Linked DNA regions of Homo sapiens. The protein of the gene in region 3 interacts with the protein of the main gene of each other region in a pairwise test. Each region holds a gene or a part of one and is shown on either strand. Other genes may lie near its edges. The genes, in order: SLC38A7, ERMP1, HHLA2 and TNMD.

The links.
Region 1: the proteins of HHLA2 (region 3) and SLC38A7 interact in binary tests that used the Homo sapiens proteins (3 or more experiments, as listed by UniProt).
Region 2: the proteins of HHLA2 (region 3) and ERMP1 interact in binary tests that used the Homo sapiens proteins (3 or more experiments, as listed by UniProt).
Region 4: the proteins of HHLA2 (region 3) and TNMD interact in binary tests that used the Homo sapiens proteins (3 or more experiments, as listed by UniProt).

Annotation. Positions count from the first base shown.
Region 1 is NC_000016.10:58,674,758-58,681,782, reverse strand, and holds part of SLC38A7 (sodium-coupled neutral amino acid transporter 7), read left to right. Parts: intron 1-1,541; 5' UTR 1,542-1,656; coding exon 1,657-1,926; intron 1,927-2,888; coding exon 2,889-3,087; intron 3,088-3,308; coding exon 3,309-3,450; intron 3,451-4,358; coding exon 4,359-4,457; intron 4,458-5,436; coding exon 5,437-5,494; intron 5,495-5,661; coding exon of another isoform or gene 5,662-5,707; exon of another isoform or gene 5,708-5,728; coding exon 5,729-5,843; intron 5,844-6,059; coding exon of another isoform or gene 6,060-6,169; exon of another isoform or gene 6,170-6,249; intron 6,250-6,440; coding exon of another isoform or gene 6,441-6,469; exon of another isoform or gene 6,470-6,533; intron 6,534-7,025. UniProt on the Homo sapiens protein: Symporter that selectively cotransports sodium ions and amino acids, such as L-glutamine and L-asparagine from the lysosome into the cytoplasm and may participates in mTORC1 activation. The transport activity requires an acidic lysosomal lumen.
Region 2 is NC_000009.12:5,809,095-5,816,119, reverse strand, and holds part of ERMP1 (endoplasmic reticulum metallopeptidase 1), read left to right. Parts: intron 1-3,084; coding exon 3,085-3,231; intron 3,232-3,902; coding exon 3,903-3,995; intron 3,996-4,796; coding exon 4,797-5,009; intron 5,010-5,888; coding exon 5,889-6,109; intron 6,110-7,025. UniProt on the Homo sapiens protein: Within the ovary, required for the organization of somatic cells and oocytes into discrete follicular structures.
Region 3 is NC_000003.12:108,348,541-108,355,565, forward strand, and holds part of HHLA2 (HERV-H LTR-associating protein 2 isoform a precursor), read left to right. Parts: intron 1-3,247; coding exon of another isoform or gene 3,248-3,273; coding exon 3,274-3,337; intron 3,338-4,886; coding exon 4,887-5,240; intron 5,241-6,574; coding exon 6,575-6,841; intron 6,842-7,025. UniProt on the Homo sapiens protein: Through interaction with TMIGD2, costimulates T-cells in the context of TCR-mediated activation. Enhances T-cell proliferation and cytokine production via an AKT-dependent signaling cascade.
Region 4 is NC_000023.11:100,580,026-100,587,939, reverse strand, and holds the start of TNMD (tenomodulin), read right to left. Parts: upstream 3,005-7,914; 5' UTR 2,922-3,004; coding exon 2,874-2,921; intron 2,710-2,873; coding exon 2,578-2,709; intron 1-2,577. UniProt on the Homo sapiens protein: May be an angiogenesis inhibitor.

The DNA.
Region 1 (7,025 bases), on a different chromosome or scaffold from region 3:
TCTGCAGAAATAACAGCAGCAGTGACCATTTATTGAGTCTTAAACCCTTACTGATATTAACACACGACCCACAGGAACATATGATGTAAAGGCCTAAAGGGGCGAAGTGACTTGCCCAGGGTCACACAGATAGGCAGCGGAGGAGTCAGCATTCTGACGGCAGAACCTACTCGGAGACCCAGATCACAGCCCTGCCCAGGGCTGCTCTTGATCTGGGGGTGGACTTGATGCTTTAGGACCATCATTTCTCTGCGGGTCTCAGGCTATGAGCTGAACCTTGAGAACACTGAAGATCCTTTTTCAGGGCTGGGCTCCTCAGAGCCTCTCGAGATTCTTGGAAGAAAAAAAACTGCATCTCAATTGTGTTTATCCAGAGAGCAAAGAGAATCAGTCAGGTGATAAGCCTGTTATCTGAGTTCTGCCATACCCAAGGTACCATCTTGGACCCAGGAGTGGGGCAGATACAAACAGATGGATGCCCTATGGTCAGACAGGCCTGGGTTTGAATCCCAGCTCCACCACTGACCGCCATATGACTGAGGGGAGAGTGGTTATCCCCTCTGGGATTCAGCTTCCTCTTTGGTAAAATGGTGACTGTCATGTCTACCTTTTAGGGCTGCATTGAGGATTGAATGAGAAAGCATTCCATAGCTGCAGCAATAGTGGTTTATAGTGACAAACAGCACTGCATGTTTGGCACTGATCATTGTAATCTAGCCCAGGAAAGCAAGCCTAGTGGCCAGTGAGATGCTAGCACATGAGAGAGTACTGAGAAGAAACCAGCTAGAGTGGTTCTGGGCCCCTACATGGCTCCAAGAAGAGCTCAGTGAGTGACCCAGGAAATGGGGAAGAAATAGGACCTAAAAGGGTGGCGGCAAAGGAGTTGGGAGCATTAGAAGCATGGGATGAATCACTGTTTTCCTGAAGACGCAAACATGACAGGCATGGGGGCTTGTCACATGAGAGAAGAGTCGAGAATTGGCCTGAATTTCGAAGGGCCTCGAAAGCCACAGAATTCAGACTCCAGGCCACCGGGAGGCGTGCTGGACTGTAATATGTTGAATCTCAGTTCTTGGTAAGGGGTCCTTTTGGGACCCTGTGGGGTGGAAACAGGCTGGGAAGCCAGACAGATCTGGATCCAAATCCTGCTATGCAACTTGCTAATATATGACCCTGGGTCAGTGATGGGATCTCTCCGAACCTTTTGACCACAAGACCATCCTAAGGATTGAATGAGATAAAGTATATCCATGACACACCTGCCCGATGCGGGGCCTCTATCGAGTGCTGATGTGTTAGTACCCATTTTATGTTGACATCTAACTGGTCCATTGAGTCTGTATGCCTGAAGCAAGCATGATTTGCACCTGATCTGTTTCTGTGTCTGTCTCCCCATACTCTGGCACCCAGTGCACTGTCTGCACAGAGGCATACCTGGGTTTGGACCCTACCCATGTGATCTTGGGAAAGTTATTACACCTTTTTGTCCCCTAGTTCCCCCATCTTAGGATAACAGTAGTGCCTGCCTTTGTCCCATCTAGGTTGAGAAGAGTCCTAAGCTAACAGCCCCAAACAGGTGGGTGTTGCTCAGCTCCCTGAGGCATGTGGTTGTAAGGCAGAACCCACAGACCTTGCAGGAAGAAGGCTCTCGGGGCCATGGCCCAGGTCAGCATCAACAATGACTACAGCGAGTGGGACTTGAGCACGGATGCCGGGGAGCGGGCTCGGCTGCTGCAGAGTCCCTGTGTGGACACAGCCCCCAAGAGTGAGTGGGAAGCCTCTCCTGGGGGTCTGGACAGAGGCACCACTTCCACACTTGGGGCCATCTTCATCGTCGTCAACGCGTGCCTGGGTGCAGGGTTACTCAACTTCCCAGCAGCCTTCAGCACTGCGGGGGGCGTGGCAGCAGGCATCGCACTGCAGATGGTGAGTGCACTGGCCGGGAGGGCAGAGGTGCAGTTCAGTTGGGCGCTTTGCCTCAAAAGGGAGGCTTCGGGTCAGGGATGGCCAGTAAGTGATACACGCACTGCTCTCCCCTCCCTCACACATGGCAGACATGACTAATCTATTCTAGTATTCTTTCCTGTGACCCAAATGAGGCTTCAGAAGCCTTCCAACAATCAGAGAAATTTGAACATCAATTACATCTCTAATTTTTTAGGTGTAACATTGATTTTGTGGTATGTTTAAAAAGAGGGCCCTTATCTTTTAGAACTACATACTGAAATATTTATTGATGAAATGATATGATAGCTTATATTGGCTTCACAATAAATGCAGAGTGGGAGGGAAGGGGAATGATGAAACAAGTTGGCCATGCATTGATCATTTTTGAAGCTGAGTGATGGATACATGCCAGTTCTTTTTACTATTCTCTTTACTTTTTTCTTTGAGATGGAGTCTTGCTTTGTCACCCAGGCTGGAGTGCAGTGGCCCGATCTCGGCTTACTGCAGCCTCTGCCTCCCAGTTTCAAGTGATTCTCCTGCCTCAGCCTCCCAAGTCGCTGGCATTACAGGCACCCACCACCATGCCCAGCTAATTTTTGTATTTTTAGTAGAGACGGGGTTTTACCATGTTGGCCAGGCTGGTCTCAAACTCCTGACTTCAAGTGATCCTCCTGCCTCAGCCTCCCAAAGTGCTGGGATTACAGGCATGAGCCATCGCATCCAGCCTATTCTCTTTACTTTTGTATGTTGGCAATTTTTCAAAAAACTTTTTGTTTTTAAAGAAAATCTCAACTCGGCATCCTCTAGCAGTCTCTTAAAATTGCCTTTGTGAGATTTGCCAAGCTTGCTTTGGGCACTGGCCCAGTAAATGCTAGGCGAGCCCAGGGTGCCCTCTGCTGCCAGGCCTTTGCCACAAGCTCTTGTTCTGCCTCTGCCTGCAGGGTATGCTGGTTTTCATCATCAGTGGCCTTGTCATCCTGGCCTACTGCTCCCAGGCCAGCAATGAGAGGACCTACCAGGAGGTGGTATGGGCTGTGTGTGGCAAGCTGACAGGTGTGCTATGTGAGGTGGCCATCGCTGTCTACACCTTTGGCACCTGCATTGCCTTCCTAATCATCATTGGCGACCAGCAGGACAAGAGTGAGCTTCTCCCTCAGTCCCTACCCCATCTCTTCTTATCAGCCCCAGGGATCCTGGGGTGGAGGGAAAAGGCACTGAACACCTCTCCAGGACTTACCTGGGCCCAGCATTCATCTGGGAATCCTCCCTCCAGGCAGAGGGAGGTCCTGGGGCCCAGCAGAGCAGGAGGGCCACACCCCATGGTGGCCTGGCTTGACATTCCCTCCTTCCTCCCTGTGCAGTTATAGCTGTGATGGCGAAAGAGCCGGAGGGGGCCAGCGGCCCTTGGTACACAGACCGCAAGTTCACCATCAGCCTCACTGCCTTCCTCTTCATCCTGCCCCTCTCCATCCCCAGGGAGATTGGTTTCCAGAAATATGCCAGGTTTGGAGGCCCCAGCCTGGGTCAGACAGAAGCTATGATCCTGGGCAGCTGTAGACCCAAGGGCTCCTGGGGAACCCTGCTCCTCCATGCCACCTCACCTTGGGGAGCAAGAGTAGGCAAGGCAGGGCAGACCGGGGCTTGCAGGGTTTCAGATAAGACCATCCTTTTCTGTCTCCATCATAGAAAAAGGATGCATCCATGAGAGATTCAGTTCTAAATGTCCTTTTGCATCCATGAGTAGTTCAGTTCTAAGTGCCCTTGTCAAAGAAGGAACAGGTGGTATCTGGGCGGTGAAGGCAGCCTCCTGGCATTCCCTGGGAGGAATTTGGGTCTTTGAGACTGTCAGCCTACCAGCATCTTACCTGCAGCTTGGCATGAAGGAAGGAGACTGGTTTCCTGTCTCGGTGTCTGAAAGGCTGTGGGATTCTAGGCTTCCCCGTCTGTAAGTGCAGGGGCCATGCTCCGCTCTCTCCAAGGCTCCCATAAATGTTGACACAAAAGTGTCTGTACTCTCAACCCTCTTACCTCTGGCATCTCTTAGTTCTCAAAGGCCAGGCTCAGAGGATGGTCTCCCACAGCCCCTGCCCGGGCTGGGCTGCTCTGATTCAAGTCCCAGGTGTGCTTTGGAGCTCTGCTCTCTGCATCGTCTCTGAGCCATGGAGCTGAACCAGCACTTCCTGATGGCCAGGAATGCTGATCAGGTCCCCTGTTGGCTGTCCAGCTCCTTCCTAGCTGTGGCAGGTTTCTCTGAAACTACTTCTCAGGCGTTTCCTGAGTCTGCTTGGCATAGTCTCCGGTTCATTCAGTGGACACTTGTGGTCGCTAGAGCTGAAGGTGGATGTCCCTAGGGGTGGAATCAGATAAGAGGCAGCTGGGGATGAGGACACTTAGTCTCTCCTTCCCGGCAGCTTCCTGAGCGTCGTGGGTACCTGGTACGTCACAGCCATCGTTATCATCAAGTACATCTGGCCAGATAAAGAGATGACCCCAGGGAACATCCTGACCAGGTGAGGGTGAGGGCCCTAGGAGACATGGGGAAGAAGCCACCACTTGGGCCCCAGCAGGTGCTGGGTCAGGAACCAGAAGGCCACACAGGTGCTCTTCTCAAGGCTCATGAGCTCATCAGGGCTGACTTGGTCATTGTAGGAAGGAGGAAAGAGCCCCTGCTCTGATGTTACTGGAAGGAAGAGCAAGAATCAGAGACAGGAGGCACTTTGCCACCTACATCCAACAGATGAGCCAGTGTGAGGCTAGGCCTTGGGTTGTGGAGGAACCTGAGGGTGGAATCCCAGGGTCGAATTGCCTGTGTTTCCAGCATCTGCTTATCTGTAATTTCTGTATCTTTGAGGGTGAATTTATTATTAAAAAAAAAGGGGGGGGGCCAGGCACAATGGCTCACGCCTGTAATCCCAGCACATTGGGAGGCCGAGGCGGGCGGATCATGAGGTCAGGAGATTGAGACCATCCTGGCTAACACGGTGAAACCCCGTCTCTACTTAAAAAATACAAAAAAATTAGCCGGGTGTGGTGGCAGGCGCCTGTAGTAGCAGCTACTCGGGAGGCTGAGGCAGGAGAATGGCGTGAACCTGGGAGGCAGAAGTTGCAGTGAGCCGAGATCGCGCCACTGCACTCCAGCCTGGGTGACAGAGCAAGACTCCATCTCAAAAAAATACAAAACAAAACAAAACAAAAAAAACAATTTCCTTCTTTTGAAAGGAACAAACCAGTAAAGCAAAAGCCCCAGTCCAGGAGCCAGGAATTCTGGATTTTGGCCCCAGGGGGGCTTTTCTGAACCTCCAGGCCCCATCCCAGAGGGCCCTGGGACATAAGGATGCCTCTTCTCCCTGTTCCCAGACTTCTGTGGGTTGAAGCTATGGAATCCCAGTTGCTGGAGACCATGGTGGGCTGACCGAAGAGTGAGGGCGTGGGGTGGGTTGTGGCTCTGAGGGGTTCCCAGGTGGCAGCACCATGTGTGTTTGTTCACAGGCCGGCTTCCTGGATGGCTGTGTTCAATGCCATGCCCACCATCTGCTTCGGATTTCAGGTGCCAGTGCCAGTTGCAAGGTCCCTGCTGTCCCCTTAGATCACCCCACCCTGGGATGGAACCCAGCAAGGAGGAGGAACCCAGGCAGAATGGAGGAAATCCTGGGGGGAAGGATGGAACAGGGGCCTCAGGACTTGCCCCTTGTTCCTGGGGTCTTTGTTCCCAAGGTACCTTCCTCTGGAAACTGGGGTTGAGGTCATTTCCCCACCATGACGGTGCCCTTCACCTGGACAGTGCCACGTCAGCAGTGTGCCCGTCTTCAACAGCATGCAGCAGCCTGAAGTGAAGACCTGGGGTGGAGTGGTGACAGCTGCCATGGTCATAGCCCTCGCTGTCTACATGGGGACAGGTGAGTGCTCCCCCCCCCCAAGACCTGGGACTAGAGTGCTCTCACTTCCACAGGAGTCCCTAGGTCCTGGGGCCTAGCTTTCCTGGGGACAGCCCTGCATTCCCAGCATGACTTGTATAGGCATTGGCTTGAACTTGGCCTGCCTGGAGCCTCCTCCTGCCAAGATGAGAGTGGTGTATTCATCCATTCATTCACCAGTTCTAACTTGGTGCCTAGGAAGTGCCAGGAACGGTTCTCAGCATGGGGGATGCCATGGAGAGAGACAGAACTGGTCTTGCCCTCATGGAGTTGACATTCTTGTTGGAGAGACAGTCATGCAGGAGTAACTGGGGAATCAGTAAGGAATTCCAGATGGTGGCAAGCATCCTGATGACAGTGAAATAGGGAAGGTGTGTTTTGTTTTATTCTATTTTATTTTGTTTTGAGAAAGGGTCTCAGAAACTGTCGCCCAGGCTGGAGTGCAGTGGCATGATGATAGCTCACTGCAACCTCAACCTGCTGAGGTCGAGTGATCCTCCTGCCTCAGCCTCCAGAGTAGCTGGGACTACAGCCATGTGCCATTGTGCCCAGCTAATTTTTTTTTTTTTTTTTTTCTAGCAGAGACAAGGTCTCACTATGTTGCCTAGCCTGGTCTTGAATTCCTGGGCTCAAGCAATTCTCCTGCCTCGGCCTCCCAAAGTGCTGGGGTTACAGGCATGAGCCACCAACCCAGCCTAAAATGGGGAAGGTATGAATGGGACTGGATGGGTGGCTTTGGGAGTGGTTCACAGAAGGTTCTTCTCAGAGAAGGCCCAAATGATGAGAAAGAGCCAGAAGAGGAGGAGCTGGGGAAGAAGGGTTCCAGGCAGAGGAACCACAAAACACCAAATCACTGAGGCAGGGCCAGGAAGAAAGTCTATGTGGCTGGAGTGGTGTGTGATGGGGGCAGGTGAAGGCAGTGAGGCCAGACAGGCACTGGCAGCCAGATCCTGTTGGGCCTCGAGGGCTGCTGGGAGTCATCGAGGAAGTGTTTTAAGCAGGGGGGTGGTTCGGGGAAAGGTGGCTCTGGCTGCCGTGTGGAGAGTGGTTGGGGTGAGGGAGCAAGTCTAGGAGACCCTGGAAGAAGGATCCCCTGAGTTCTTTCCACGGATAGACCGTAGGAGCTGCCTGGGCCAATACTGTTCTAGCCTCTGAATACACAGC
Region 2 (7,025 bases), on a different chromosome or scaffold from region 3:
TGGATTGCCTTGCCTGCCTAGGCATTTTTTTTAACCTCTCTTCTCAAATACAACTCCCTCCCATCTAAGAGGAACTATTATCCTAAGTTTTAAGATAATTAATGATAGTTTGGCTTTACCTGTTTTTCAGTATGGTTTTCATTGTATTTTTTAGCATAAATTTCTTAATATCAAATAGTAATATTTTAATAATAGTATTTTAATATGATAAGATCTCGTAATGTACGTATTTCCCCATCATCATAGTTCTTTTTCCTTTTGTATTTGTGTCCTCAGTGCATCACATCAGGATGCATGTGGTATCTGTTTGTCTCATTATTAATGATACTACATTTTCATCGTTTGATTAAGGTATTTATTTGCCAGGTTTTTCTACTATTTCTTTCTTTGTACAAGTTACTGATTTCCCCTTAGTGATAGATACTTTAGGTAAATATCCTGTTTGTCATAAAACTTTGATCCTAGTTTTAGCAATCATTGATGACTCTTGTCCCCAAGCATTTTTATTACAATGTTTACCAAATGCTACTGCTGAGTTTCTGGTTCCATCATTCTGCCTGTAGGTCATAGTTGGAATTCTGCAAGAAGGAAGGCTTTCCATTTTCCTTTTTTTTTTTTTTTTTTTGTTATTTCAGTACTTTATGTATTTTAATTTTACTCTATATATTCTGTTACTATTGTTTATTTTGTTGCATGAATTGTCCCAGTTTAGGCCAGTGGTGTCTATTTCAAATCAGTGCCTGAGCCCCTTTGACATGTCTTTTTGATCACTTTCTTACTTTCTGGCACAGATGTTTCAACTTACCTTGTACTTTGCTAGTCCCAGACCTGGAATCAGCCATTTCTCTAAGGAGGCTTGGTTTCTTTTGGTGGGGAATAGTATTCAAAAGTAAATGGTGCCAGATACAGTTTTTCTTTATATTTATCTTGTTTGGGGTTTGTAGACCTTTTTGAATTCGTGGCTTGAATTCTATGAGTTTTGGAAGATTCTTGGCCATTAAGTCTTTAAACATTTATCTTCTCCATTCTATCTTCTGTTCTTTTGGGACTCCAATTACTCACATTTGTGTATTTTCCAACCTTTTTTTCTTTTTATGCTTTAATTTTAATCCTTTCTTCTGCTGTATTAAACTTTGTGTTAAGCCCATTTATTAAAATTCGCAACATCAGTTATGTTTTTTCATTCTAGGATTTCCATTTGTAGGACTCTTTTAAATAGATTATACTTGTCTGGTGAAATTACTGATATCTGTGTTTTTTAAAACATATTAATCATAATTATTTTAGAATCTGTGTCTGGTAACTCCAGTATCTGGATTACTTGTATGTCTGTTTCTATAGGGTCCCTCTGCTTTTTTGGGTCATTTTTAATTTTTAATTTTTATTTTTTCAGATGGAGTCTCACTCTGTCACCCAGGCTGGAGTGCAGTGGCACAATCTTGGCTCAGTGCAGCCTTCACCTCACAGGTCTAAGCAATTCTCCTGCCTCAGCCTCCTGAGCAGCTGGGATTACCATGCCCTGCTTATTTTTGTATTTTTAGTAGAGGTGGGGTTTTGCCATGTTGGCCAGGCTGGTCTTAAATGCCTGACCTCAGGTGCTCTGCCCACCTCGGCCTCCTAAAGTGCTGGGATTATATGCGTGAGCCACTGCACCCAGCCTTGGTCATTTTTTAAAATGTAGGAAAGCAATTTTATAATCTGTGAAGTTAAAAAAACAATATTCTTAGATTCCCTGACATTCAGTTACTTGGTCTGTTTACATCAGTCAATATGTTGCTAAGTTTTGTGGTAACAACCCCAAAATCTTGGTGGTTTACAACAGCAAAGGCTTATTTCTTGCTCGTGTTGCATTTTGGTTTCTGAATAACTGCAGTTATGGTCCACGGTTATTATGTTCCATGTGTCTTATTCATTCTGGGATCCAGGCTGAAGGAGAAGCCCCTATAAGGGATGTATTGATCTCACAAATCAAAGTTAAGGATAAGTATGAATGATGTTAATGCCTTTGAAAACTCTGCCCAGTTGAGGGTCATGTCATTCCTCCTCACAGTCTGTTGGCTAGAGCAAGTCATGTAGCCACGCCTGCAGTTAATAGGTACAGAAGAGTATGTACTCATTCCCCAGGCAGGCATTACAAGGTATGTGGCAAGAGTAGGAATGTATAATCCTTTTTCAGCGAGGGAAGAGTGAATAATTATACAATTATACATATAATTATATAATTATAATTATATAAATATACGTATAATTATATAATTATATAAATTATAAAACAATGTATCCCACTATCCTACAGGAAAAACTCCCATTTGAAAAAGCTGTAGATGTATGAGATACAGATGGAAAATTATTAATAATGATAAATTATAAAAAGTAACAAGGAACTTTATGGCATATTCAGTGAAATGTTAAGCAGTTATCAAAATGATTATTATAATACAGATTGAGCATCCCTAATCTGAAAATTTGAAATCCATAATGCTCCACAATTCACAACTTTTTGAGCACTGACATGATGCTCAAAAATGTTCATTGGAGCATTTCTGATTTTGGATTTTAGGATTAGGGATGCTTACTAGTATAATGCAGATATTCCAAAATCCGAAAAAGTAAAAAATCCAAAATACTTCTGATCCCAAGCATTTCAGATAAGGTATACCCAATTTGTATCTAGCAACATAGGAAAATGCATTTAATATAATGTTAAGTGAAAACAAATGTACAAAGTATATATATCTTGAGTACAGCTATATACACACAATTCTACATTAGTAAGAAAATTAAAGATATACAATTGATAATAGGCATTTTAGGATGATAGATTTATGAATGATCTTTCATTTTCAGACAGACTTTTGTATTGCTGTTATTTTATACTTTATTTTCACAAAAGGTTTTTATTCTAAAAGTCAAACACATATATCAGAGAAACATTGGAAACTACAGAAAAAGGGATGAAAAGGTACATATTGGACCCGTCTCCCAAAACCACCACTTTTACTGTTTTCTATGTGTTGAAAAACATTAGTATGTTAAAAAAAATTGCCGGAATACCTTCTATTGTGTTGTCATCTTTCATTTTAGGTCCTGAAAATCCTTGGTTGGTTCAAGCTTATGTTTCAGCAGCTAAACACCCTTTTGCTTCTGTGGTGGCTCAGGAGGTTTTTCAGAGTGGAATCATTCCTTCAGATACTGACTTTCGTATCTACAGGGATTTTGGGAACATTCCAGGTATATTGTCAATGGTTACGGCCTACTGTGCAGCATTTATTTATCAAAAGCAAATTTTAAATCTTGAAAGTATGTGAGTAAACAGCATTTTCTGAGATCAAATTCTTTATGTGAGAAATATACATTGACTCACTAAAACAGAGTTTGTTTCCTTTTTTAAACTCCATACTAATTTAAATGCTGGCCTCCTCTAAAATATGTCATCTTTCCCCATAGAAGAACAGGGGTGAACTGTTTAGCACCTCATTCCCAAAAGATGGTAATAGATCCTTCAGGGGTCTTTCGTTGTTGTCTTGGTTTGCCAACTCCCTTGGCAACTTGTATGTACAACTTATTTGAAGTTAAAATTTGGCTCTGGCCTGGCAAGAATGTAGGTGGCAAAATTTTCATGACCTCCCAAACTCAATATTCCTATCCTTGCTGTGTGACTTGTAATGCCTACCTGTGGAGTAATATACTTCTTCAATCATTATGTATCGAATTATGTACCAAAGCTATAGACTGTGTAAGAATTTGGAAGAGAATTTATATCAGTCGTTTGTAAATGTGACAAAGCAATCGTGCCACTGCTTTGACATTTTGTCTTTTAGGAATTTATTAAAGAAATAGGTCGAAAGCAAGGTTGATCTTTAAAGCAAAATGACTTTTTTTTTTCTATATATATGTTTTAGGAATAGACTTAGCTTTTATTGAGAATGGATACATTTATCACACCAAGTATGACACAGCGGACAGAATTCTAACAGATTCCATTCAGAGAGCAGGTTGGTATTCCAATTTAGACTTTTGATATACACTAAGATGGAATGTTAGGGATGATACATAAACTTGTAAATATTCTGTGGCCTGTGCATTAGAGAGGCAGTATGCAATGTGAATGAGCTAGGGCTTTGGAGTTGGAGAGATGAGATCTTGAATTTTAGTCTTGTAGTCTAGTGTAGCAATTAAGGTCAGGAATATTCATTGTGAGGAAATGAAAAAGGAGTTGGCCCAGGGTTGGGAGGATTGCTGAGTGGTAAGAATGTAGCTCTGTTAGTCTCCCATGATGTTTTCCTGTGGAACTCTGCTAGCTCTCCTCAATTTTTAACACATGTGTGACAGCTTGTTCAGCATCTCTGAGCTTCGTGAAAGGCCTTTGTCTCTTGGTTCACCACTAAATTTCTGATATCTAGAAGAGTGTCTAGTACAGTTAATATATATTATTAAATGAATGGGTACCAAGAAACAGCCATTGGATTTGTCAACAATGAAGGTACAATTGATCACAGAGAATAGTTCTAATAGAAGGGAAAAGATACAGGCCAGTTGGCTGAGCGTCTGAGTGGAGAGGAAATGGAGAAAGGCAGGGGATGGACCTTATTTGAGAAATTTAGTAAAAAAAGTGAGGGAGAGCAGTAGGATGGTAGAAAGCGATTTCTGTTCACATTCTTTCTAACCATTTCTTCATTCAAACAGTATATGGTTTATTTCTGCTTTAAATAGTGGTATGTGTAAATCACAAATAGTTTATTCAGCCTTTTTATCTTTTTCCTTTTCTTTCTTTTTTTTTTTGTTTTTACTAATAGGTGACAACATTTTAGCAGTTCTTAAGCATCTAGCTACATCTGATATGCTGGCTGCTGCTTCTAAGTATCGACATGGAAACATGGTCTTCTTTGATGTGCTGGGCCTGTTTGTCATTGCCTACCCCTCTCGTATTGGCTCAATCATAAACTACATGGTGGTAATGGGTGTTGTTTTGTACCTGGGCAAAAAATTTTTGCAGCCCAAACATAAGAGTAAGTATTTTCCTCTAAAACTACAAATACTGGCATTGCTGTAGAATGTGCTTGAAGTTTTTCAGTCAGTTTGTTTATATCTTCCCAGAAAGCTAAAAATCTTAAGACAATGTTTGCTTTATATTGTAAGAAATTTTTAAATATTAAATTAATATGCTTATTTTACTTTTAGTCTTGGTGAAGCAGTCAATTTTTATATATTTAGGCACTCCATAAAAGTACCACATAGAAACTATTGAAAAATGGTTTGTACAGATTGACTTCTAATGAAAAGTCCCATTAAAAAGTCCACACTACAGACCAATAGCTAGTATGGACCAGTGTCACGAAGTATGAATGAACTGCTTGTGGTTAAACTGTTTCTTTTATTTGAAATATTTCTGCTTGAAATGTTTCAGAGTCTAAGTTGTTGTGTGCTGTTACGAGATAAAATATTTAGCAGCAGTTTAAATAATTCTTTATCAACGCTTATTTTCCCCACACTCCTTATCTTCTTATGTTACCTTATTTTAACAACATTTTATATGGAACTTTGCCTTCCATTCTTGCTAATATTTTGATACACAAAGCATACCAAAAGTGAAGAAGATTAAGACTATCCTCTTCCTTCATAAGGAATGTACCTGAACTATTCCTAGAAGATTTATCTTTTTGAGTGTTTAGTATCTAGAGACTCTTAATAAATGTTACCTGAATATTATTATTTGATACCTCCCTTGTTCTTGTGTTTGGCCAATCTCAACACTAGGACATTTTCATACTTTTCAAGTACAGTGGGGAGTTTTTTGTTTTAATGTTTGCCCATTTAGCTCTACTGACTGGTTATATAACTGATTTGATGAAGATGGTGATTTCAACTTTTTGTTTTCTCTTCATTAGCTGGTAACTACAAGAAGGACTTCTTGTGTGGACTTGGCATCACTTTGATCAGCTGGTTCACTAGCCTTGTTACCGTTCTCATTATAGCAGTGTTCATCTCTCTTATTGGACAGTCTCTCTCATGGTATAACCACTTCTATGTCTCCGTTTGTCTGTATGGAACTGCAACTGTAGCCAAAATAATACTTATACATACTCTTGCGAAAAGATTTTATTACATGGTAAGTGTTTGGTATATTTGTTGATTTCTTTCTGTTGCCTCCAGGGACTGAAGATGAACTTAAGTGTGATTCATTGTATTTGGCCTTTTGAGTGCTAAAAAATTGTTCAGCATGGTTATGGAAAACGCACCTACACTGTGTTAATTTTCTGAAAGATTTCTTATTCTGAGGGTAATGTCACAAAATTCAAATGAGGTTATAAAGCCGGGCTGTTAACAGTGTTAGGGTGGTGGTGACTGGAAGGCTTGTTAGCACAGCCTTCTACTGAATTTGCTGCAGTGTTTGTAAATATGTCCTGGGCTCACCCACTTATTTATGTTATTTGAATATCTGTTCTCCATTGGAGTGTAAGCTCCTTGAGGATAGGGATTGTTTTATTTATTTCTGTATCCTCTGTGCTTAGGTAGTGTCTGACACACAGCATTAACACACAGCAAGTATTTGTTGCCTAAAAGAATGTTGTACTTAAAGTTTTTTCAGTTTTTCCCTCACTGTTTTTTCTTTTTAACTGTATATTGTTGATTCAGATTCTGCATGCATGTATGTCATTGGAGTTAAAAGACACATTGCTAAGGAAAACAGAGGGAAGGGAAATAGGGTTCCAAATGATTTATACTGAGAATATTGTTATATTATTATGGTTTCAAATGCATAAATTTGTTTGGCAAAAATAAAATTAGAAATTAGGGCTGGCCGGGCGCGGTGGCTCACGCCTGTAATCCCAGCACTTTGGGAGGCTGAGGTGGGCGGATCACAAGGTCAGGAGATCGAGACCATCCTGGCTAACACGGTGAAACCCCGTCTCTACTAAAAATACAAAAAATTAGCCGGGCGAGGTGGCGGCGCCTGTAGTCCCAGCTGCTCGGGAGGCTGAGGCAGGAGAATGGCGTGAACCCGGGAGGCGGAGCCTGCAGTG
Region 3 (7,025 bases):
TTCTAAGATGGGTGATTGGAGCTTTTATGCCTATAGAATTGATTCAGGAGAGAGAGAGAGATCCTGATGATGTAGTAGAAAGGAAATATGATTGCAGGGACAAATTTCTTTTTTTTTTTTAATTATACTTTAAATTCTGGGTTACATGTGCAGAACATGCAGTTTTGTTACATAGGTATACAGGTGCCCTGGTGGTTTGCTGCACCCATCAACCCGTCACCTACATTAGGTATTTATCCTAATGTTATCCCTCCCCTAGCCCCCCACCCCCTGACAGGCCCCGGTGTGTGATGTTCCCCTCCCTGTGTCCATGTTCCACTCCCACTTATGAGTGAGAACATGCAGCGTTTGGTTTTCTGATCTTGTGATAGTTTCCTGAGAATGATGGTTTCCAGCTTCATCCATGTCCCTGCAAAGGACATGAACTCATCCTTTTTTATGGCCGCATAGTATTCCATGGTGTATATGTGCCACATTTTCTTTATACAGTCTATCATTGATGGACATTTGGGTTGGTTCCAAGTCAAAATTAAAAGAACTAGAGAAGCAACAGCAAACAAATTCAAAAGCTAGCAGAAGACATGAAATAACTAAGATCAGAGAAGAACTGAAGGAGGTAGAGGAACAAAAAACCCTTCAAAAAATCAATGAATCCAAGAGCTGTTTTTTTTAAAAAAAAAAATCAACAAAATAGATAGACCACTAGCCAGACTAATAAAGAAGAAAAGAGAGAAGAATCAAATAGACACAATAAAAAATGATAAAGAGGGTATCAGCACTGATCCCACAGAAATACAAACTACCATCAGATAATACTATAAACACCTCTACGCAAATAAACTAGAAAATCTAGAAGAAATGGATAAATTCCTGGACACATACACCCTCCCAAGTCTAAGCCAGGAAGAAGTCAAATCCCTGAATAGACCAATAACAAGTTCTGAAATTGAGGCAGTAATTAATAGCCTACCAACCAAAAAAAGTCCAGGACCAGATGGATTCACAGCCAAATTCTACCAGAGGTACAAAGAGGAGCTGGTACCATTCCTTCTGAAATGATTCCAAACAATAGAAAAAGAGGGAATCCTCCCTAACTCATTTTATGGGACAAATTTCTTGAATACAGAAAGGTGTGAGATGCAGAGTACAGTGAAGGGTTTGGCCTTGGATAAGAGCAGAAGGAGAGACAAAAAGAGTGCACCTAGATGTTAATGGGTTGGTTGAGTCAGTGATAGGAGGATGAGGGAGTAGCCATAATCAGTTACAACAATTATGAAGTAAGAGCATCAGCTGGAAAAGAGATGAGAACAGGGAATGTCAGTTTCAAGAGAAGGTAGCAAATATTGGAGTCATTCTAGGCAATGGGAAGATGAACCTCTAGCAAGACAATGGACATGGAATGTTTCAGGGTTACGTTAAACAAGGTGAATTTGAGTTAATTTTTGCTTGGAAAGAGACAGTAATTAAATTTCAAGGTTTTTTTTAATGGCATATAGAGGCAAAAGGTATTATTACATGTTTACATATTTTCATAGTAGAAAAATGAGTTTAATGATTACTTGTAATCTTACTCTTCCAAAATAATCATTGTGATATCCTTTTATATATTATACATGCAAATACTTCCATAGGAAGAAATATAAAGGTCTCAATTTTGATAACTAATACTATTTTGGAGCAGTTTTGACTTTACCAACTATCTTAGTTATTGCTCTAAGAGAAATAAAAGCAATTGGACTCATAACTTTGTCATATTGCAAAAGTATTTCTATATTTTGTTGCTTTTTCCATTTTTATAGAGATAATAGAAAATGTACAGTTTTGTTAAAAGGCCTTCTTCCTAAGGTCGTGTTTTCAATAACTTTCTTATAGTCTTTAAAATGTAAAAATGAAACTCTAAATTATTAATCTACCAGGTTTTATTTTGATAAGATGTGATGAAGGAATCTAATTTTACTTTTTTAAAAAAATTGTTATTTTAACAGGAGTTACATGTGCAGGCTTGTTACATGGGTATATTGCATGATTAATTTCACTTCTTAAAATAGTTTCAAGTCATTCTTAAATCACATACCTCACAACAAATATAGAATATATTCTTGTAATAGTAGAGCTCCTAAATGGTATCTTTTTTATTTATTTTATTTTATTGTTACTTTTTTGAGACAGAGTCTCACTGTCTTGCCCAGGCTGGAGTGCAGTGGTACAATCTCGCCTCACTGCAACCTCCACCTCCCTGGTTCAAGCAATTTGCCTGTCTCAGCCTCTTGAGTAGCTGGGACTACAGGCACATGCCACCACACCCGGCTAATTTTTGTATTTTTAGTAGAGACAAGGTTTCACCATGTTGGCTAGGCTGGTCTTGAACTCCTGACCTCAAGTGATCCTCTTGCCTTGGCCTCCCAAAGTGCTGGTATTACAGGTGTGAACCACCATGCCCAGCCACCAAATGATACCTTTAAAACTTTCTTTTAGAGATTTTAAAACCAATTGTATGCTATTCTTTAAACAAGCTATTTCTTACAGTGTAAAAATTAACTTTAATCCTATCATCTGGGAAAATCAGTTACATTGTACTTGCTTGAAACTGTATTTTTGTGTATACACGTTTTGCCATCTATATTTTCTCACTTTTTTGAGTTTTTGAAACATGCTTTGTAACCCATGAATTTAATGGCTTGCACTAGTATTGGATATGTAAAAATATATTTTCAGGTTTTAGTTGTTCTTTATGTGTGATTATAAATAACATCATAGTTTACACCACTGGCACTTAATATTGAATTTAAATTGGTTTTAGTATTTTCTATCATAAAAGCAAATGTGTCCATGTAGAAAGCTTTAAAAATAACAAATTATTATCCAGAGAACCACTGTTGCAGATATACTAAATCTTTATTCATTCAAGAGCCATGTTTCAGCACCTGTTAATAGCAGTCACTGCTTCAGATATGAAACCTGCTCTTCAGAATTAACATCCTCATATACTTAGTCATATATCTTGTCAGTATCCTATGATCAGAAATGTGTATGTTTTAAAAAAGGAACCATGCTATTTAGAAATTGTATTGTAATCTAATTTTTCTCCGATAACCTATTAAGAAATTCCTTCCATGCCATTGAACCATCCTTTACAATATTATATTTAATGGCCACAAAACAATTATTTGTATGAATGTACCACTCTTTTCCAATTCCCTTTTGCATTTTAAATCCATAACATGTGCACTTTACTTCTCTTTGATAGCATGACTAATATGTTCTGCACAAGACATGAAGGCACAGACAGCACTGTCTTTCTTCCTCATTCTCATAACATCTCTGAGTGGATCTCAAGGTAATTTCGTTTGTAATACAAGTGTTAGTTATTTGCATTATCAGATAGAAACATGAGCACACAATGCAAGGTGGCTATTTCCTCCATAGCCACAGCATCGTGAACTTTCCTAAATCATCAGTTAATCAGAAGCAAGGAACAGGCTGGAAGTCTGCATGAAGACTAAAAATTATATATATTTTTTCTGTCCACTCTGATTAAGACTCTTTCTAATCTGTTGTCTGCTACCAGAAGTAAGTTCACTGGAAAGGCAAGTTTGATTGATTGATTTTTTTTTTTTTAAGTGTAAGCTTGGTACTTACCACTTGACAGAAGGCATTATCAGCTTTGCTAGGTCCTATGACAGGCATTCTTAATTATCCAGTGAAACATTAGAGGGGTTTAGCAGAGCAATTAGAGAGATCGACAGTCACTCTTTTCCTTTCCCATCTTTCTGTGTCTTTCTTTCAGCATGATGCCACATCCCTCTAGCTCTCTGCAGAGAGATTAAGTCTCTCTGAGGAAGAGAGGCGGGACATGGTAGGGTAGAAAGAGCCCCAGAAGGGAAGGTAGAGGATAAAGACTGTGACAGAGCCACTTGGGCACGCAGTTCTTCCATCTTGGGTGGCCTGGGCCATGAGCCAAAGGAGTTACTCCATTGTCCAAAAAATAAGGTCCTTTCCAGTGCTAATATCTTAGAATCCATAGACAGGGCACAAGATCTACTTAAAATATTTTGTAAATCAAAGCAGTTAGATTACCTCCTTCAATGATAGGAAGTGTCTGGGTATATTTTCTTTGCAAAAATCTCTTATTCTGTTGATTTCATTTGCTTTTTGAAATTAACTTGTGAAGTTGACAGTGAAAAGAAAACAAAACAAAATAAGTAAATCAAGAGAATTGGGGATTAGGCTTCCAGATTTATCTCCAGATATTCCTTACCTACATTTTGACCAACTCAGGATATCCTGAGAGCAGTCTTAAACTCAAAGCAAATGAATGACTCTCTTTCCCTTTTGGACTCCTCCTGCTCATGTCCTTCCCTATTTAGATCTAGTGTACAGATATCAGATTCCTGAACCCAGCATTGTCTTCTATGTGCTCCAAATATTTTCTTACCCAGTCAAGCTGAGTTTATTCCATTCTTTTAGGGCCTGCTGGCTGTTGCTAGCTGGATAAACTAATTTATTGTTGCTATAGTAGGAGTTAAATGTGAATGTGTTCTGGGAATGAAATCCAATGGAGTCTTTTAACATACATGATTTCCAGGCCAGGATTGGAAGAGAGATAAGATTATTGATCAAGTGGGCAGCAAACCAGTGTTTCTATGCCTTGGGCTGTTACCAGTTCTCCCAGTTACATTGCATAAAACAGATATTCAATTAAAATTAAAACTCAAACACAGAGCTTCACAGGTTTGTTTCTAATAATCAGACAAGTGTTTTTGATTATGTGGTCTACTAATAATCAGGCTGCTAACCTAGGATAGTTCTTCTGGGTAGTTCTGGTATAATCCTGAACAAGCACATGGCATTAATTCTCTTTATAACTTCTCTGCTCTTGACTGTAGGCATATTCCCTTTGGCTTTCTTCATTTATGTTCCTATGAATGAACAAATCGTCATTGGAAGACTTGATGAAGATATAATTCTCCCTTCTTCATTTGAGAGGGGATCCGAAGTCGTAATACACTGGAAGTATCAAGATAGCTATAAGGTTCACAGTTACTACAAAGGCAGTGACCATTTGGAAAGCCAAGATCCCAGATATGCAAACAGGACATCCCTTTTCTATAATGAGATTCAAAATGGGAATGCGTCGCTATTTTTCAGAAGAGTAAGCCTTCTGGACGAAGGAATTTACACCTGCTATGTAGGAACAGCAATTCAAGTGATTACAAACAAAGTGGTGCTAAAGGTGGGAGGTAAGTGTGCATGTAAAGTTTCATGAAACAGCAATGACATCATTCCATGTTATTAGTAAGCGTCTTTTTCCTAATATGCCATGAGCTTCCTTCCAAGTCAATACATGGAAATCTACTTATTTTTAACGCACAGCAACTTGTAGTATACTAATGTTATAAATGATACAACTGTTCCCCTGTTGGTGGGTATTCAGGCATTTCCAGTGTTTTACATTACATGGTTGTGATGAACATCCTTATAATTGTACTTAATACTGGGAAATAATCTGAAAGCAAAGTACCAGAAGATTTAAATGGGTTACTGATACTAGCAGCATAAGACTATCCACTTTCCCCTTAGTCTTATCAGTACCAAATAACTGCCAATATCATGACTGAAAAAATATTGAATTGCTGATTTAAATTGCATTTTTCTATATTATAAATGAGGTTAATTTTATATTATATGCTTTCCTTCTCTGTATTAGCTATATATAACACTATACCTATATAACTATAAGCCATTAATATAGTTAATACATACAGTTATATACAGTTAATATCACTCAGACAGAGCTTCATGGTGGTTATATTATACAGTTAATATAACTATATAATATATTAACTGTATTAATATATTAACTGTTGCTAATTCTCATAGTTACATTGAACCAAACAGGTATTAGATTAAAACTGAAGAAATTCAAAGAGCTTCATGGCTCCTAATTACCGGATTACCAAGAGTTCCTGATGATGTGCTCTGTTAATGATCAGGCTGCTGATCATTTATATGCAATATAGTTAGTATGCATTATAATATATAGAACAATCTTACATATAGATATATATACACACACACACATACATGCAGTATTTTCTAATGGGTTGTTTTTCCCAGCACTTGTTTCTTTTTCTTCTGTCCCTTTTAGCTGCTTCAGACCTTGATTCAGAAATCACAAAATTATGTGTAAACAGTCAAATAGGTGCTCTGAGTCAGTATTTGAGGAGTGTAGAGTGCCGCATGAACTCTACTTTATAGACTTAGACATCCTCATTTTGGTTTTTCAATGAGGCCATTAGATTTCTTTTCCAGCTATGTTTCTAGAAAATTGAGATTGCTAGTTGCCACATACCCATGCCTGCTCTTTTTTTATTTCTTCTAGATAACCACACTATATCTTAAGGTTCTACAGAGGTGTGTGTTTGTTGGTTTGTTTTCCCTTTCAGTAACTGCCAAGTTTTGCTCATAAAATTTAGCTTTTCATTTCATGGATATTAAAAAGTATTCTGCACAGACGGCCTATAAAGAAGCTAATGATGGCAGTTTTTCATGCGCCCTTCTTTCTCCTATGTAGTTTTTCTCACACCCGTGATGAAGTATGAAAAGAGGAACACAAACAGCTTCTTAATATGCAGCGTGTTAAGTGTTTATCCTCGTCCAATTATCACGTGGAAAATGGACAACACACCTATCTCTGAAAACAACATGGAAGAAACAGGGTCTTTGGATTCTTTTTCTATTAACAGCCCACTGAATATTACAGGATCAAATTCATCTTATGAATGTACAATTGAAAATTCACTGCTGAAGCAAACATGGACAGGGCGCTGGACGATGAAAGGTAGGCTCCACAGGACTTTCTGTGTACACGTGCTGTTTCAAAGTTGGGGGGTAATGGGGACTGATTTGCAAAAAAAGAAAGGAAGATGAAAGAAAAGAAAGCAAATCCATCTGCAGCGGTTAGAAGACCAAGACCGAAGCCCTAGGGCTGGTTCTTCTGGCTGTATTACATTAAGCAATCATTC
Region 4 (7,914 bases), on a different chromosome or scaffold from region 3:
CAACAAGTCTCATAGATTTGTTAAGGAAAGCCCAAAGAGCCTGGATTTTAATCTGCTGTTGTTTCTTGCTAGGCCATACCATTAAGGGGAGAGTCTTTAATTTATGTAAGATGCCTGTGTCCCTTTCCTATGCAACTCTTCCAAGACTAATCTGACTGCTAGTCTCTTCCCAGAATTCTTAAGTCTGCTCTAAGGCAGGCTTGTTGATAGGCGTACCCATTGGAAACATAGATGGTCTCTTGAGATCTTTGTCTGGGACCTGAAGGTAGTAGTGGACTAAGTAAAGCATCCTCATTTCCAGCTGATTTCTTAGTTTTCAATGAACCAAACCTGGTCTTATGAAGGCCATGACTTAAATATCAAAGACAATGAATCATAACTCCCCACTGGAATGGAAAACCAACAATATTTGTTCATGGTAGAGAAACTTGCCCTAGGGGACACCTGTTGTCTTTATCTGGATTACTTCATAATAGCTTTGTTCATTTCTGAGAGTCCCTTTGCTGAAAATGACATCCCAAAATGGATTACTTCACAAGAGGTTTGATTTTTGATAAACTTTATTCAGCAGCATATCCCACCTCTTCTGTGCATGCACTGACCAAGTTTTATTTTGGTTTGAGGTATCATAGGATTGCTCCTTATAATCATTAAAAACAGAACTAGAATGAGATGTAAAGATGATATAATAGGGAAAGAGAGGAGACCATGAAGCTGCAAGTGAGTTTGACACTTTGCAATAAAAAGGCAAGGTCTCCACCTAGTCGTTTATAGCTGCGTTGAGGCAAATAGCACTGTAAATTTATAAAAACACATATACTCTTTTGGAATAGCATTTGCAGTACCAATGACAACAATAAAACAAGAAAGGCCATTTGGCCCCTTATTTAGGCAAGCATCTAAGGGTGGTCAAAAGGACTAGCTATCCACCATGCCCAGTTAAGTACATTATGGCTGTGGAGAACAAAGGATTTATGGCCCTTTAACTCATGGATAATTTTCAAGAGGATCCAAGGTTCAACTTGTGGGGTGACATATCACCTTGGGAATTAGCTAAGTGGTACCAGAATTGTATTGGAATGCATTTTGGCTCTCTTATTAATTTGCTGTTTCCTTCCTGATCTCGATTGCTTTACCCACCCTGCCAGCCTGAACACAGGTGGCTTCTCTAGAAGGACATTTGAACGGTAAGTAGTTCAGAAGCAAGGAGCAGTAAGGGGAGGAGGAGTAGGGGATAGGGCTAACTATAGGCATTGGGTGATGCCTGAAATCTTTTCTGGAACAAAGTATAAATAAAAAGGCAAACAAAGTAGGCTGGCTTGCTCTCCCTCCTACTTAAACCTGATAAGATATCCTTTGGGACTAAATGAAAGTGGGTATGACAGCAGAGGTGGAGAACCCAAGGGTGGTTATGCTTTATACCTCTGTTATCTTTCAGACACTTAGCCAGCTTATTTTCTGCTTTTCCTGCTCTGCCTCTCTCTCCCCACTGACCCATATTTTTTTCTCTCTGCTCCTATTGCTCCTTTGGCTCCTAACGGTCCATGCCAACCCATTTTCTTGTATCATCCTCCTTCCTGGATTTGTGCTTTTTTCTCCCTACATCTGTTACCAAATAGAAATGAGCATCTTATGACAACCAATTAACAACAGTAATAACAATAACTTCAGCAGCAATCCACACACCAACAGAAAAACATGGCAAAGCCAGAAAACTATCTTCACAACTTGTAGTTTGTATATTTGTTGATTATCTTTCAAATGGAAATTGTGAGCATGAAGGGACTATGGTTTTATTTGGGACTATGGTTTTATTTATTTATTTTATATCTAAACTTGCCCATTGCCTATGAGCCCAGGAATAACAATAACACTAAGGTACAGAAATATAAACTACAGTGGCTAGCCAAGCTTCACCAAATGACCCCAGTATCAGAAGCTTTCTGAGTTATCTGTGATTAATGACTTGGTGTCGCATGCTTCTACCTTGTGGCATTGCTATCTCAGTGGGACAGTGATGATTGCAGCTGGCAAGGAGCTGAAAAGCTCTAGTTTCTTTTTAAAGTCATAAATAAATGTGAAGTCAGGTATGAGAATTGCTCCTCCTGAAAAGCAGCTTGCTGCCTGTTCTCACTGCAGATGCATTAAGTCAGAAACATAATCCCTGAAAATCCTTTGCTGCCACTTTGGGTGGTTTCTCCTTATGTGGTGGTCTAATTACTTTTCCATCAGTTTCTGCCCAGATAATTGAAAGAAAGATTAAAAGTATTTTTTCTTAAGGTAAAAACTTTGCTCCTAGGAGGAGTCTTAACTCCTTAAATATAAGCATTATAGAAGAATGGGTAATTCTACACCCTATCATTACTAACCAAAATATAGAAGATAAATTTTTTTCCCTTACCAAAATAATTAGGCAAATGAAGGAGAGAAAAATCTTGATTCAGTTTTTCATACCACCAGAAAATAAACACAAAAGAGACTTAATGATTTTCATTTTCAGAATAATTTATATGCCTACTAATTAAATTCAATCAAACTCAGAACAGAAGCATCAGATTATGATGTGTATTTACTTACTTTTTTGGGTACCTCCGGCCAGAAGTGCTTGCTCCCCCAAAACAGGACAATTAGAGTTAGGGCCAGGATACCAAACACCAGTCCACAAATCTTAAGTGATTTACATATTTTCTTGGATTTAAAAGCTTCTGCCTAACCAAAGAACAGAGAGAATAAAACAATACACAATAAATCTCAATAAGCAAGCCATAATTCAAAGTCACCTTTGATTCCACTTTCTAATGTTCACTTTGCAATATGATAAATCTGTGAAACCATGCTTCTGCTCAAAAGGGAAAAAATATGAATCAACTTACATTTAGAATGTGACAGTCTTCACAATTCTCTGGAGGATTCTTTGCCATGGTCTCTCAGCACACAGTACTCTTTCCTTGCTTTGAGAGGACTGAGAGACCACTGCTGAGGTGGAGTTGCAAGTGAGTCGGCTAACAGATGCCAGAGGAGAAGCTGAATTTATATGGCTCAAATATGTCATACCAGAGCCTGAGGGAGCCCAGGGGACTCCTGTGCTGCGATTTGTTACATAGATATACCCATATATGTATATAACTTCTGTGCACAGAATTCCATCCAGAATGGCAAAGACAGAAGGTTATAATGAAAACTATTGTCCTGGGGGTTGGGTTGGAAGGGGACCAAGCCTAGAACACATTGAAATGATTTTTCACTATGAACTTAAAATATCAGTGGCAATACATGCTGCACACTCCAGAAATAAGCAAACAAAACAAAGAAGGGAATGAAGTCCTAATTTCGATTCCATTTGGTTCAACAAATATTTATTGCAGGGATATTAAATGTCAGGCACTGTGCTTGGTGTTTGAGATTCAGAAATGAATAAGATATTGCCTCCTTCACTAAGTTAAAGCTCTTTAAATGGTGCTATCAATATGTACTTAACTAATTATAATGAAAACAGGATAAAATAAAGACTAATTCTAAGCTCTCTCTCTTCATCTTCTGTCTCTGATTTTTCTCCTTTCTTGGGTCCTCTTCCTCAGTCTGCTTTTTAATGTTCACATGCCTTATGGTTCTCTTCTTGATGATCATTCTCACTTTACACAGACTTCGTAGATGATATCATTCATTCCTACAGTTGAAAATATCACCTACATATCAGTGATTTCCACATCTGTACCTGTAACCCAGTTATATCTTTTAATTTCAAGGCCATTTGAACATCTCCACCTGGATATACCTCAGGAATCTCAAACTCAACATGTTCTATATCAAAGTCTTCTTTCAACACCTTCTCCTAACCTACTTTTTCCCCTCATATTCCCAACCTTAGTTGGTGGCTATATTAGTTTGCTAGGGCTGCCATAACAAAATACCACAGACTGAGTAGCTTAAATGGCAGAAATTTATATTCTTACTGCTCTGGAGGCTAGAAGTCCAAGATCAAGGTGTTATCAGGGTTGGCTTCTTCTGAGTCCTCTCTCCTTGGCTTGTAGATGACCATCTCCATATTCACATGACATTCTCCCTCTATGTATGCCTGTATCCTAATCTCCTTTCATTATAAGAACATCAGTTATATTGGATAAGGTCCCATTCATATGACTTCACTTAACCTTAATTACCTCTTTAAAAACCCTATCACCAAATACAGTCAAATATAGAAATACTGGGGGCTAGGGCATCAACATATGAATTTTGAGGGAACATAACTTAGCTTATAATAGTGGAATTGTCACGCACCCAGTCTTTCAAACCAAAATCTGAGGTTTGTCTTTCAAACCAAAAATGTGAGGTTTGTCTTTCAAACCAAAAATCTGAGGTTTTGTCTCTTTTTCACATTCCCTTTATCCAATCAATCACTAGATCCTATCTATTCCAATCAATCACTAGATCCTATCTATTCTAAATTTTTATATCTTTGAAAGCTGTTCTTTCCTATTGTGCTCACTGCTAACACCCCAGTTTAGTTTGTCATCCTTTTTGAGAACTTTCACATCCATATATTTTACCCAGGCTGTTCTCTTGGAGCTCCACATCCATATGTCCATCTAACCTGCTAGACATCTACAATACCCAACAGACACCTCAAATTCCATATATCCCGAACTGAATTAGTTATCTCTCCTTTCAAACATGCACTTTTTTTTTGGTATTACCTCTCTCACTAAATGACACAATAATCAGTCTCTAGAATAGAAACTTCCAGATGATCCTTGATTTCTTCCTGTCTTGTTCATCCCCATGGCTAATCAATTATTAAGTCCAGTTAATTCTGCCTCTGAATTAGCTCTGCAATCCTATTCTCTCCATTGTCAATCACCACTGTTTAAGTTGAGGTTCTCAGTCACTTTTACTATTGCAATAGAATTCTGTTTTCCTTGTCTCTCATACATTGTCTTCAAGGTGATCTTTCTAAGACTCAAATTTGAGGATAATCTCTCCCTTGCTTAAAATCCTTTAGTATCTATTCATTGTCTATAAAATCCAAGCCACTTATTGTGACATAGTAGGCATTTAATGATCTCGACTTTGTCCAACTCTCTAGTCTTGATTTTGGACAATTTTTTTCTACAGCGATGGAGCCAACTGGGAGGTCGCAGCTGGGCAGGAAAATGGGGCATGTACATATGACTACCTCCACATCCTAATGTCTCAAGGAAAATAATTTTCTAATTGTTGGATACATGATTGTGCATTAAACTGATTACATAAATTATGAAATATGTCACGATTCTATATGTTCTACAATTCTTTGGTCAAGCTTAAAGAGAGAAAAAAGAAAAGCCACAAGAGCAGTCTCATGGAGAAACTTATGTTTATTGGGTCAGATGGTTCCCCTCAGTGATGTTATTCACACTATGCCTCTGATGCCTGCCTCACACTGTACACCCTATTAATGAACATGCCCTACTTCTTCACACTGTAGGACATTTGCCCATGCTATATTCATTGCCTGGAGTTTTCTGCCTTCCCTTGTTTACCTGGAAAATTCCCATTTGGCTTTCAAAATGCTGCCTAGATGTTATCACCCCCTGAAAGCCTTTCCTGGTCTCATCTCTTCCACTTCGTTAAGTTAATTACCCTTTCCCTTGCTCTACTTTTGTATCTTGCTCATACTTCAACCGTTATACTTTGTATGCTGTATTATAATTCTTTTTTATGTGTTCCTCTCCTGAATAGACTTTGAGATCTTTTAAAACATGCCTTTCTTGTTAAAAGGATTGAATTAAACCAAGAGTCAAAGCAATATTCCATGGAAACATAGAGGGAAGAGTGATTAATTCTGATTCAGAAAAGCAGGAAAAATGGCACAAAGGACATGGCATTTCAATAGACTGTTCATTGATTAGCATGTATTTATTCAGTGTCCCCTATGTGGCAGGCATTGTTATAGGAGCTAGATATATATTCAGTAGTAGACAAGCAAACACAGTTCCTCCTTTATAGAGCTCAGAGTCTTGTTGGGTAGACAGACATTAAACTAAAAGGAAAAAAATCCTGTAAATAAAAGTACATAAATGATGATATATGCTAAGAAGGAAAAGTGCAGGTGCTTTAAAGCACCTAATTTGGATTGGGTGGGATGGGTGAGGGAAATCCATGCTGAGGAGTTGTCACTTAAGCTAAGACCTGAATAATGAGTAGAAGTTAGCTGGTAATGAGTGGGGAAAAGATTATTCCAGGCCAAAGGAACAGCACATGGAAATATCCTGAAGCAAAAAAGGGGTTGAATTATTTAGAGAATAAAAGGAAAGTCAGTGTAGCTGTGATGTAGTGAATGAGGAGGAGAGTTACTTGAGATAAGGCTGAAGAGGTAGGCAGGAGACATATTCAGAGTTGCATCTGCTAGGACTGTTTTTTGCTGTATGTAATAGAAACCAAGTTATGGCAGTTTAACCAAATGAAGGGTTTATTTTTCTCACATAATGGGAGTCACAAAGTCAGCAGTCCAGGGCTAGTTCAAGTACAAGGACCCAAGCTTCCATCTTTCTGTTCTGTGATCTTTTGAGCATGGCCTCCATCATCATGCTTCCAAGATGGCTGCTCCACCTCTAGGCAGGATAAAGGGGGGATAGCAAAGGGCAAAAGAACATGTGGCAGCTAAATTTGTCCCTTTCCATTAAGAAAGTAATAGTGTTCCTGGAAGCCCTGTCCTGTAGATTTTTGCTTATCTTATTGGCCAGAACTGGGTTGGATGACCACTCCTACTTATAGTGGGGTCTGGGGAGGTTTTATTTTCAACTGAGCCTGTTACCACTCTTAATAATATCTTTTTATGTATATATAGAAGGGGGAAACATATTGAGTAGGCAACTTATAATTTCTGCCACAAAGGTCATGGTAAATGTTTGAAGTTTATTTATTTAAAATTAGAAATAGGGTCTTGCTATTTTGCCCAGGCTGGACTTGGCCCAGACTCAAGTGATCCTCCTACTTCAGCCTATCAAGTTGCTGGCATTACAGGCATGTGCCCGTGTACTCAACTGAAGTTATTCTACAAACAATGGGAATTAATTGAAAAGTTCTAAGTAGAATTCCTTTTATGTTTATTAAAATCTCTCTGGCTGCTGTGAGAAGAATGAATTGTAAGGGGGCAAGAGTTTTAAAAGGTTGACCAGTTAGGAGGTAACTGAAAGAGATTATAGTGGCTTGGACTAGGAAGTGGTAGCAGAGATGGAAATAAGTAAACAGATCTGGGACATATTTTAGGTAAAGCATATACTTGGTGATAGATTGAATATATAGAGAATGAGAGAAAGGGAAGAACAAAAAATAACATAGATTCTGGTTTGTGCCTTTGGGTGGACAGTGGCACCATTCACTGGGATTAGGAAGCACTGAGGAGGACCAGTCTGGGGTAAGTGATGAGCATAGTTTTGGACATGTTAAACTTGAACAGTCTATGAAGTATCCAACAGGAGTTGTCTAGTTGGCAGCTGGGCAAATGTGTCTGGAGCTTGGAAAACAGGTGCTTGAATGGAAATATAGATATGGGGGCCATTTGCCTTTGGATGGCATTCAAACCTATGGGAGTCTATGATATGGTCTAGGAAGAGAGTTCAGGACAAAAGGAGAAAAGAGCTCAAGACTGAGCCCCAGGGAATCTTCACAGTTATTTATTTTGAGACATGCTTTCACAATGGCTTTCATTTTATAAAAAAGATACACACTCATTATAAAAATAATGGAGAAATATAAAAATACAAAAAAGAGAAAAAATCCCTTCAAATCTGCACCAACCAAGAATAGCCATTATTGTGCCTCAATTTTCTTATCTGAAAAACAGGAGGATACAAACAGTACCTATAGGTTGTTGTGATAACTTAATGAGGTAATCCATTTAAAGTGCTTATTTTGCCTGGCATGGAGTCTTAT